3 linked regions of the Homo sapiens genome follow. The protein of the gene in region 3 purifies or fractionates together with the protein of the main gene of each other region. This does not show direct contact. Each region holds a gene or a part of one and is shown on either strand. Other genes may lie near its edges.

The links.
Region 1: the proteins of FSHR (region 3) and DNAJC18 purify together in Homo sapiens (affinity purification with mass spectrometry; 2 studies listed by BioGRID and IntAct, with this or other methods). This does not show direct contact.
Region 2: the proteins of FSHR (region 3) and ENTREP3 purify together in Homo sapiens (affinity purification with mass spectrometry; 2 studies listed by BioGRID and IntAct, with this or other methods). This does not show direct contact.

What each region holds. Positions count from the first base shown.
Region 1 is NC_000005.10:139,437,465-139,441,214, forward strand, and holds the start of DNAJC18 (dnaJ homolog subfamily C member 18), read right to left. Parts: upstream 2,062-3,750; 5' UTR 1,982-2,061; coding exon 1,942-1,981; intron 95-1,941; coding exon 1-94.
Region 2 is NC_000001.11:155,248,884-155,252,633, forward strand, and holds part of ENTREP3 (protein ENTREP3), read right to left. Parts: intron 3,026-3,750; coding exon of another isoform or gene 3,023-3,025; coding exon 2,850-3,022; intron 2,719-2,849; coding exon 2,619-2,718; intron 2,282-2,618; coding exon 2,212-2,281; intron 1,939-2,211; coding exon 1,393-1,938; intron 1-1,392.
Region 3 is NC_000002.12:49,147,796-49,151,545, forward strand, and holds part of FSHR (follicle-stimulating hormone receptor isoform 1 precursor), read right to left. Parts: intron 1-3,750. UniProt on the Homo sapiens protein: G protein-coupled receptor for follitropin, the follicle-stimulating hormone. Through cAMP production activates the downstream PI3K-AKT and ERK1/ERK2 signaling pathways.

The sequences.
Region 1 (3,750 bases), on a different chromosome or scaffold from region 3:
TGTGCCTTCATGCAGTTACAGCAGCCACAGGGGTCATGACTCTCAGGAGGTGTGTCTTCTGGGTATTTGTTTCTTCTAACTGCGTCAATGTAAGCTGCAAACAACAGCCCCTCCATTAGGTCTCCATCTGACCCTGAAAATCAACTTTGCAACCTGCCTTTCCTCTCTGGGAGGCTGCTCGTAAGCATGAGAAGGTAAGCATGATGGCCAGGGCTAGAGGCGTCATGCTGACTTTTAAGCACTCATACAAAGCTGAATAAACATGTTTCTCTGTGGTCCGTGGTCAGAAGAGACACTGCTCGTAAAATAGTATTTTTTGTTGCAGTGCCTCCCACCCCTAAAATTTAAAGTAGAGAGGAGTTCAATTCTTTTACACTAACAATTATAGAACTAATATATACCAAGGAACTTGGCTAGAAGATCAAGAGGGCGGATGGGTAAGATCTACTCCTGACCACAAAGAGGTTAGTTTAATGCAAGCTTGTCCAACCCGCGGCCCACAGGTGGCATGTGGCCCAGCACGGCTTTGAGCTCAATACAAATTCGTAAACTTTCTTAGAACATTATGAGGGCCGGGCGCGGTGGCTCACGCCTGTAATCCCAGCACTTTGGGAGGCCAAGGCGGGCGGATCACGAGGTCAGGAGATCGAGACCATCCTGGCTAACACCGTGAAACTCCGTCTCTACTAAAAATACAACAAATTAGCCGGGCGTGGTGGCAGGCGCCTGTAGTCCCAGCTACTCGGGAGGCTGAGGCAGGAGAATGGCGTGAACCCGGGAGGCGGAGGTTGCAGTGAGCCGAGATCGCGCTACTGCACTCCAGCCTGGGTGATAGAGCGAGACTCCGTCTCAAAAAAAAAAAAAAGAACATTATGAGATTTTTTTTTGCAATTTTTTTAAAGTTCATTAGCTGTCATCAGTTAGTTATTTAGTCGTCAGTTAGTGTATTTTATGTGTGGCCCAAGACAATTCTTCTTCCAATGTGGTCCAGGGAAGCCAAAAGATTGGATACCCCTGGTTTAAAGGGAGAAGATTCAATAACAACACCTGCAGAATGTAAAGAGGGTCATAAGCAATACAGTCAAAAGGGGCAGAGCACTCATGTCTTCTCTGGAGGACCTGAGAAAGGCTTTAACAACATCTTTCTTCCGCTTAACATCCCTCAGCTACCTCCACCCACTGCTCCTGGACAGTCTTCCTCTAAGTCGGCCTGGCTAACTCCGACGCATCCTTCTTGTCACCATTTGTAACACTTTCTGCAAGAAACCTCCCTTGACAGCCAGTCTGCGTTAGGTACCTTGTAAGTGTGCTCTCCAAATCCCTGACCTTGCTGTGTAGCCCAGGCGTTTTGTATTATTCGCCCGTTTTGTAATTGGCTGTTCAGTCGTCAAACTCTCTCAGTGGGCTGCGAGTTTTGTGAGCTAAGGGACCCATGTCAGTCAAATCCCCACTGCAGAATCAGCATTAGGCGGGGCACACAATAGGTATTGGATCAATATTTTTTGCCTGACTGTAGGGTGGAAAAGGCTGGTCCTGATGCCGGCTGGAGCGACATGATCAAACAGGGACTGAAGGTCAGGTGGCCCAGTTAGGCGAAAGATAAGGGCCAGGTTAGCAAGCTGCGGAGAGACCGCAGCACCCCACGGGCCCTCCAGTCACCTTGGCATGGGCGGGGCCTGACAGCTGCGGGCCCTGGGCGGGGCACGGGCGGGGGCGGGGCTGGGGGCCGGAGGCAACAAGTCGTCACCGGTGACTCTGGGCTCGCGGTCGGTCCCCAGCTTCCCTACCCCATCCGCAACCCTACTCAGGCTCAGCATCTTTTCACAGGCCTCTATCCATCACCTCAGACCCAGGATCTCAGCCCTTGTGCGTCTTCAGGATCCTCATCCCTGATCTCTCCCGAAGGCCGCCCTATCCCTCCTTCAGGCGGGGACCTAGTACCTTCCGTCCAGCGCTCCCCGCTGCCCAGAGTCGCCGCCATATCGGTTCCCAATCAGCAGGTCCGCCGAGCCTCCCCCGTGCCCGAGGCTGAAAGAGAAGGGGGCGCGGAGCGCGGGGCACGCTGGTCATTGTAGTCCAGTCCATATGAGCTCCCGGGGCACTGGACTACAACTCCCGGCAGGCTCTGCGCCAGAGGCCGTGGGAGACGCAGAGAAGTGCTCGACCTTCGTCAGGAGATCTGTGGAAGAGTGCTGCTGCCAGCTGCCAGCTGCCTGCAGCACGGCTCTTGGCTTTTCCTCATTTGTAGAGTTGGGATAGTGGCTTCGGCCCTGCCTAACCCTAGGGACATCCAAGGAGGGGCGACTGAAGTCCTGCCTGGAAAGGGCTTCGCAAACTATAGGCTAGAGGGTGACAGTATGACTATTATGCTCCTCAGGGATGTCTTTTTGAAGCATACGCTAATGCCTGTTCTGTGCAGTCAGTGGTAGGCCCTGGAGATTCAGAGATGGGTTTTGGGGATGCGGAACCCAGCCTTTGGAAGCTTGAGTCAGGAAAATAGAAAAGTGATGTAGATTTATGGGGTTGGAGGGCAATCTCAGTATGTCCCTACTGCCCCAGCTCCTCAGGCACTGGACATCAGAGGGTATCGGGGTGGAGAAAGAAGACATGGAAAGGTATTGGGGCCGGCATGAAGAGCCTCCATCTTTGCTGTTCCTGTCCTTCCTCCAACCCATCCTACTCCAACACCCCTCTGACACTTTTCTCCTCTCTTCCAGTCTAGTTATCTCTTTAGCCCATTCGTTTCTTTTCTGAAGGACCAGACATTGAGATTAGTAAAAAGGAAATGAGGAAATAAATATTCTTGCTGTTCCTCATCCAGGTATGGATGGAACCTAGCAAAGAATAAAAGCAACACTTTCTTCATAGGTGGATGGCTACAGTTCATCCCCAAACAAAAAATTACCCAGAATTAACTGAGGTCTTACCCAAGAAGACCAAATCAATCATGATATCAACTAGCACCTACTTAGGCAGTTGGGGAGAGATGTATATTCCTGGACATAAACTTGGAAGGGTAAAAGCACCAAAGGGCATGCAGTTCCAGCCCTTGCCTACAGTCATGGCCCTGGCATCACTGACATTATGCCCACTTAAGAACTCAGAGAACGGCCGGGCGCGGTGGCTTATGCCTGTAATCCCAACACTTTGGGAGGCCGCGGCAGGCGGATCGCGAGGTCAGGAGATCGAGACCATTCTGACCAACATGGTGAAACCCCGTCTCTACCAAAAATACAAAAATTAGCTGGGCATGGTGGCGTGTGCCTGTAGTCCCAGCTGCTCGGGAGGGAGGCTGAGGCAGGAGAATCGCTTGAACCCAGGGGGCGGAGGTTGTAGTGAGCCAAGATCGCGTCACTGCACTCCAGCCTGGGTGACAGAGTGAGACTCTGTCTCAGAAAAAAAACAAAAAACAAAACTCAGATAACAAGGCCTTTCAAGTGGAAAAAGCACTGGTCTAGAAGTTGTATAGGTGTTATATTAATAGCTGGGGTTTTGCCACAAATCATTGCGTGATCCTGAACATCTCCTTTTTCCTTCTTCTTTGGCCTCAGTCTCATCACCTATAAAACGAGAAGGTTGGATTCAATTAGTAGTTTTGTTTGTTTGCTTTTTGAGACAGAGTCTTACTCTGTCGCCAGGCTGGAGTGTAGTGGCATAATCTCGGCTCACTGCAACCTCTGACTCCCTGGTTCAAGCGATTCTCCTGCATCAGCCTCCCGAGTAGCCGGGACTACAGTCGCACGCCACCAT
Region 2 (3,750 bases), on a different chromosome or scaffold from region 3:
TTTCAATTTTTAGTAGAGATGGGGGTTTCACCATGTTGGCTAGGCTGGTCTTGAACTCCTGACCTCAGGTGATCCACCTGCCTTGGCCTCCCAAAGTGCTGGGATTATAGGTGTGAACAGCCTTGCCCGGCCACTGTCTCCTTTCTCAGCATCTTCGAGTACAATGCCTATGGCTGAAGTACTGTTATTATACATGTTTTTTGTTTGTTTGTTTGTGTTTTTGAGATGGAGTGTGTCTCTGTCACCCAGGCTGGAGTGCAGTGGCATGATCTTGGCTCACGGCAACCCCTGCTTTCCAGGTTCAAGCGATTCTCCTGCCTTAGCCTCTCTGTTAGTAGCTGGAATTACAGGCGCGCTCCACCACACCTGGCTAATTTTTGTATTTTTAGTAGAGATAGGGTTTCACCATGTTAGCCAGGCTGGTCTCGAACTCCCGACCTCAGGTGATCCACCCACCTCAGCTTCCCACAGTGCTGGGATTACAGGTGCAAGCCACCGTGCCCGGCCTGAAGTACTATTATTATACATGTTTAACAAGTGACAGCTGAAGCTTGGGGAGGACAGATAAGTGGACCAAGCTGAGAGCTGTGGAACTGGTTTCAAAAAATAAATCCTTTTGGGAGGCCGAGGCGGGTGGATCACTTGAGGTCAGGAGTTCAAGACCAGCCTGGCCAAAAGGGTGAAACCCTGTCTCTACTAAAAAATACAAAAATTGCCCGGGCACGGTGACTCATGCCTGTAATCCCAGCACTTTGGGAGGCCGAGGCGGGCAGATCACGAGGTCAGGAGATTGAGACCATCCTGGATAACACGGTGAAACCCCATCTCTACTAAAAATACAAAAAAATAGCCGGGCGTGGTGGCAGGCATCTGTAGTCCCAGCTACTCACTACTCGGGAGGCTGAGGAAGGAGAATGGCGTGAACCCGGGAGGCGGAGCTTGCAGTGAGCCCAGATCGCGCGGCTGCACTCCAGCCTGGGTGACAGAGCGAGACACCGTCTCAAAAAAAAAAAAAAAAAAAAATATTAGCCGGTCATGGTGGCGCACACCTGTAGTCCCAGCTACTCGGCAGGCTGAAGCAGGAGAGAGTCACTTGAACCCGGGAAACGGGTTGCAGTGAGCCAAGATCATGCCACTGCACTCCAGCCTGGGCGACAGAGCCAGAGACTCCGTCTCAAAAAAAAAAAAAAATTCTCCTTTTTTAGCTGCTAAGCTATGGATGTTCTGTCCCTAGGAGGTGAGTACCTGAGAAGTGTCTACCAGAGGAGTGAACTCACCCTTTCTTCCTCCTCAGGGACCTCAACTGTGCCCCAATCCTGGTGGGCATCACTGGCCACCTAACTCCCAGTGCCTACCCTCTCCTGAGCCTGGGCAGTCGGGGAGGGGGCTCACCAGTGTCACTGGAGGTCGTGATGCCTGGGTCGCTGTGGGACCGTGGCAGCAGCAGCGGTGGTGGGGATGCCGGATGAGGAGGCCGGTGCCCCGGTGGGGTGAGGGAACCTGAGCTATCGCTGAAGCGACGAGTCGGGGCTCGGGTGGGCGGGGCTGCGGCTGGGCGGCCCCCTCCCCGGGGGACCCGCCGCCTCAGCTCGGGGAAGCAGGGTCCCACCCAGGGCGGCCAGCCCTCCAACCGGTGGCAGCTGCGGGCAGCTGTGGGGGCACCCAGTGGGGGTGGAGCTTCAGGGGCAGAGCAGGAATAGGAGCGGGCAGCCCGTGGGGGGCGCCGTGGCAGGGGGCTTTCCTCGAAGGGGCCCCGCAGGCCACAGTCCAGGCTGAGGCAGTAGCCGGCACGGCTGCGCTGGATGGAGCGAAAGAGAACGTAGTCCACGGAGCGCACGGAGCCCTGCAGCTCCAGCAGGCACGAGTCCTCCGACGGGCTAGAGCCCCCAGGGAGGTCACCAATGGCTGACAGCACCAGAGACCCGCTGTCCATGGACACTGTGGGCGGCAGGGGGCGCTGTGTAGCACCAGCCTGGCCTGGCCTAGCCCTGCCCAGGCAGTTCCTCTTCTCCCAAGCCCAGCCTCTAGGGGCCACTGTGCCTCCAGCTTTATCTCAGAGGAGAAAAATAAGTCCAGGGTTCCAAGTTGCCACAGCCCTCCTATGTCCCCAAACCACCAACTCCGCCTTGTTTTCCCCTTCTATTGTCTCTACCCACCCCAGCTATCCCTGGCAGCCCCGCCCTTGTCCACCCCTCATTACGCCCTGCTCACCGTCTACAATGGAGGCCACTCGTTCACAGATGCACGAGCCATCGTGAAGCTGAGGGTCAAAGAGAGTGGCCTGCAGAAGACACAGGGTCAAGGGTTCAGCCCTACACACTGAACACCCCCATGTGCTAGACAGAGCTCTGGAGACTTAGATTCCAGACCAGCCTTGTCCCTTTGTACAAGTCACTTAATTGTGCAGCCTCAGCTTCCACGTCTGTATGGCAGAAATGATAGCTTCCAACCCACTCACCTCACCAGGCTCTAGGGAAGATCAAAGGCAACAGTGGGCATGCTGGTGCTGTAAAGACCTTGACCACTGTTACTATCTTTATCCAGAGGCTACAGCCTGTTCAGCTTTCCAGGCTACAACCCGGCTCCCCAGCCCGCCCCAAGCCGTGCTGTGCTCTCACCTGGCTGTCTCCTCGTAGTCCCATGACTGCCTCATAAGAAGGGGGGCAATCGGTAGGGTACAAGGGCACTGGGCTGTCCATGGAGCCATTGTACGTGATGCTGGCAGATGAGGAAGAGGGTCAATGTAGGAGAAATAATTCCCCCTCCACAAAGATCCCTCTCTCCAGCAATCCAGGCCCAGCCCCAGTCCCCTTCCTTAGCTCCCCCAGCAAGACCCCACCAGGCCTTACCTCTGTGCATCTGTTTCTGAGCTGCAGGTATACTCTGGGGGATAGTAGGGCGGTGGGGGCACAGGCGGGACAAATTCCTCCAGGTCCAGCATGGTGTGTAGGAGAGGGGCTGGGGGCGGGGACGTGCAGCCCAGAGGTCCCAGTGGGCCTGAGACTGACCGCTCAGGGGCCAGCTGCTGGGGAAGCGAGCAGGTCAGCAAGTCTGGATTCTGGGAATACAGCTCCTCCTGGGCCCCCAAACTCCTCTCTCATCTACATTATTTTTTCTGGCCCTATCCCCTGAGAGAAGCTCTTGTTCTGGCCCCTCCCTCACCCAAAATCAGCTCTCCTTAACCCCACGCTCACCCTGTACCTCTAGCTCTGGCCCTGCCCACCCACAAATTCCTCTTTATGGCCCCACCTCCATCCAGAAGCTCCACACATTCTGTGTCTTCACAGGAATGTCCACCCTTTAGCCTCACCTCCATCTAGGACCTTCTTTTTTTTTTTGAGACAGAGTCTGACTCTGTTGCTGGAGTGCAGTGGCGCGATCTCAGCTCACTGCAACCCCCACCTCCCAAGATCAAGCAATTCCCATGCCTCATCCTCCTGAGTAGCTGGAATTATAAGGGTGTGCAACCATGCCCAGCTAATTATTATTATTATTATTATTTCGAGACGAAGTTTCACTCTTGTCGCCCAGGCTGGAGTACAATGGCTACATCTCAGCTCACTGCAACCTCTGCCTCCCAGGTTCAAGCGATTCTCCAGCCTCAGTCTTCCGAGTAGCTGGGATTACAGGCACCCGCCACCACACCCGGATAATTTTTGTATTTTTAGTAGAGATAGGGTTTCGCCATGTTGGCCAGGCTGGTGTCAAACTCCTGATATCTGGTGATCCTCCTGCCTTGGCCTCCCAAAG
Region 3 (3,750 bases):
TTGGACATAGACATATCATTTCTCACAAAAGTAGGTGCAGGATTTTATGTCAAGAGAAAGGATTATGTATATATTAGTGTGAACGCTGTGCTGTTTGTTTCTGTCAAAGAAGTACCTAAACAAGGCTATAGGAGACTCCAAACATGGGCACTCAGGGCAATTTGCACAGTGGGGTGTTCAGTTTTGATAATCAGAGAGAACTACGACAATCAAAGTACATCTGAGGAATATAGAAAACTTAAAATTCAGGGTCTAGAATCTGACCTTAATTGGCAAAAATTATATTTTTTGAACACTTCTGTCTGGTTTAAAGTGATTTTGTTTGGGCAAAATCACTTTCCTCTTTTCGATATTTTTGTTAGGTATAGAGAGGCAAGTATTATCACGTAAGTCAAGAGAATTGAATGATGTGCCTAGAGTATAGAATATTCAACTTTTAACTCAGTAGACCTTGTTTCTAGTCAACGTCTCTTTCTTTCTGTATAAATTAATGGATTCTGGAATGACACACAGGAATTTTCTTAAAACAAACACATAAAAAAGCAAGGAAAATAAGAAAGCTATCCGATCCTATACTAGTTCACTGCAGGAGAAAGTAATAATCATCTTTTATAAGAATTCTTTATTCAATACTGAGGAGCAGAGCAAATAAACAGATGTAATTCCTCCTGATTTATCGAATCATTTGTACTACCTGTAATTGAGCGTCCAGAATACACATCGTATTGAACCAGACACACTAAGGTGTACAAAGGAAATTTTCACTACAGTTGAGGAAATAAGACACACATGAAAAATTAAACGCAAGGCAAGATTAAGTGTGAAATGAACTGCACCAGTGTTTGAATGAAAGCAAGTTTAAATAAAGACGGAGTGGTAAGGGAAGACTTCATGAAAGAGGCAACCTTTGAGCAAGATTATAATAAGGCTGAATTTCAAGAAACAAAGAATAAACTGAGAATAGTACAAACAGGAGGCATAACGTAAAGACACAAAGAGGTAGAAATGCACAAACTATGCTTGAGCCCTGTGGAGTAGGCTCCTGTTGGAGAATAAAGAGAGGTAAAGTCAGAAAGATGAGCTATTGAATGTTTTTGAACTGGGAAATCACAACATGGTGGCAGTGGTGTTTTATGGAGAAAATAGAATGACGGTGTGCAGGCTAGTTTGGAGAAAAGAGGGATTGATAAGAAAGACATAAATTAGGAAGTAATTATATAATCCAGGATTTAGATTGCCAGGGCCGAAGCAAAGATAATGGTAATTTTTTTAAAAAAAATATTATTATTAGTAGCAGAAATATGAAAGGAACTTGTAAACTGATTAGATGGGTAACCAGAAAAGTTTGAAACCTATATGATGAGGAGAAGTAAACTGTCAACATTCAACAAATGAGGAAGTTAGGAATGGTTTTTATAGTTTTGTAATCCATTGTTTTATCTTCTCTTTCTTCACCTCAGAACAGGTAATACCTGGTTACCTCATGGTTACCTATAGTCTATACTTCAGAACCATCTCCTTCATGAGAACACAGCACACTTTAAAATACCTACTTGTCAGGCACAAAGCAATAAAAACGAATCCAAGAGTCCTTTTCTAGATGTGATATTGAACACTGAATCTGAGAGTCAAGAGGCCTGGGTTGTGGTTCAGACTTTAGAAGGAATTTATCCTGATGGCTGGGGTTGGATAGACCAGCCTTTCCCAAAGTGACCTCTGTGGAATGTTAATCCTCAGAATACTCTTAGAAAAGTGGCTCAGTTTGCAAACATCAAAAACTCTGTTTCACTCTTAAGACATCACAGAACGCCTTGGTATAGCAAAGGCTACCCTTTTTGTACACGATTGATACATCCCTCTGAACTAAGGACCTATTAAACAAAGACTAACCTAGACACACTTTAAAATTCCTAATAATAATCTGTGGTTATGGAATATGGAGATCTAAACCAGGATGAAAAAATAAGGAATGTAAGCCAAAGAAAGAAAATAAAAAGAGGAAAAGATAATTTGATAATTAGAAGTAAATGCTAGTGAAAAGAGATTGCAATGAGATATGGGAACTTGCTATAAGGACAAGGTTTAACACAGGCAGCCTATAATATAATCCCAGGACAGGTTTCCTTAAGACAAGAATGACCATCAATAGACCCTTTTCTTCTTTAGTATTATAATCATCTGACCCTGCTGAAGAAAAACATCATTACGTCCATACTGTTGCCTAGACTTCAAATTTCAGATGTAGAATGGGTGTTTGCATTCTCCTTAGGAATTCTAACTGCAGGAAGAATAAAGTAAGATCAAAGGCACTTTTCTAGATCCACTGACTGCCTCTAGGTGAAGCTGAGTTTCTAAGATAAGTCAGAAACCAAAATTCCTTTGACTATAGTCAGAATGAACCTGCTCCCTGAGTTCTTGACAAATATGGACAGCGTTAAGGGACACATTTTCTTACCCAGAAAGTAAGTCCATGGAGATTAAGTGCTAGATACCCTGGGAGGAGATTATTCTTAAACAAATGGGAGGTTGTAAACTACCTCAGAGTTATAAAGATCTTTATATCAATTTTCCAAAATCAGTCTCATATCTCTTGACTGACTTGGTCCTCACGAAAGCCCTCTGTGGTAGATAATTTTTGCCTAATATTTTACAGTTGAGAGCAACATTATTATCATCAACAACAATAACAACATGAGAGATATTGTGCAAAGTGTTTCACCCACATTGTCTCATGTAATCCTCATAGCATCTCTGTCAGTTAGGCACACATGGTGATTTCCATTATACAGCCAAAGGTCCAGATAACAGAGCTAAAATTTAATGGAACATCCTGGGTTTAAACTCAGGTCTCTCAGATTCTAAACACTATACTCCACCATCTCTGACTCATCAGAACCAGCTAAAGGCTGCCCGTGAGTGAACCTGCTCCCCTAGTTTAGTACTTTCTCCATGGTGCCATGGTGCCTCAGGCTGCCTAAACCCCACTCAAACTAGTAATACTTAACCCACTCTCTCAGCTATAGTCTAAATCAGAAGTGGGCAATACATAGTCCATGGGCCAAATTTGGCTTGCCCCATGTTTTTCTATGGCCAGTAAGCTAAAAATCTTTCTCACCTTTTCACATGGTTGAAAAAAATCAAAATAATGCTTTTTTGTGTGACATGACAATTATATGAAATTCAAATTTCTGTGTTCATAAATAAAGTTTTCTTGGAACATGTCCATGTTCATTAATTTACATGTTGTTTATGGCTGCTTTTCTGCTACTGTGATAGAAGTGAGTAGTTGCAAGAAGTGGTATAGCCCATAAAGCTGACTTCTGGTTTAAAATGTAAAGGATTACTCTTTTTTTTTTTTTTTTTTCAGAATAAGAAAGGTATAGAGTCAGATGATGTTCATTTCACATGGCATGCAGAGGAGATATAAAAGATTCAAATTTGGATCCCAGCTCTGCCATCCAGGAGCTGCAGGGATAATTGCCAGAGCTACTCAACTTTTTTGTGCTTTGGTTTGTCTTATTTGAAAAACAGAGCAATAATTCCAAACTTGCAGTTTTTGGTGAAGTTTTAATGAAGTAGTATGTACAAAACATACTGCATAAAGCAAATAGTAGGAGCCCCTTAGTAAATGAAATCTACTTGCCTGTTGATGGTGCTTCTGTTCTTTTAGCATTAATATCAGCATGTGCAGATCATAGGAAATTAGCAATCTTTCGTGATAGCTGGCAGATGTATCAAATGAAATGAAAC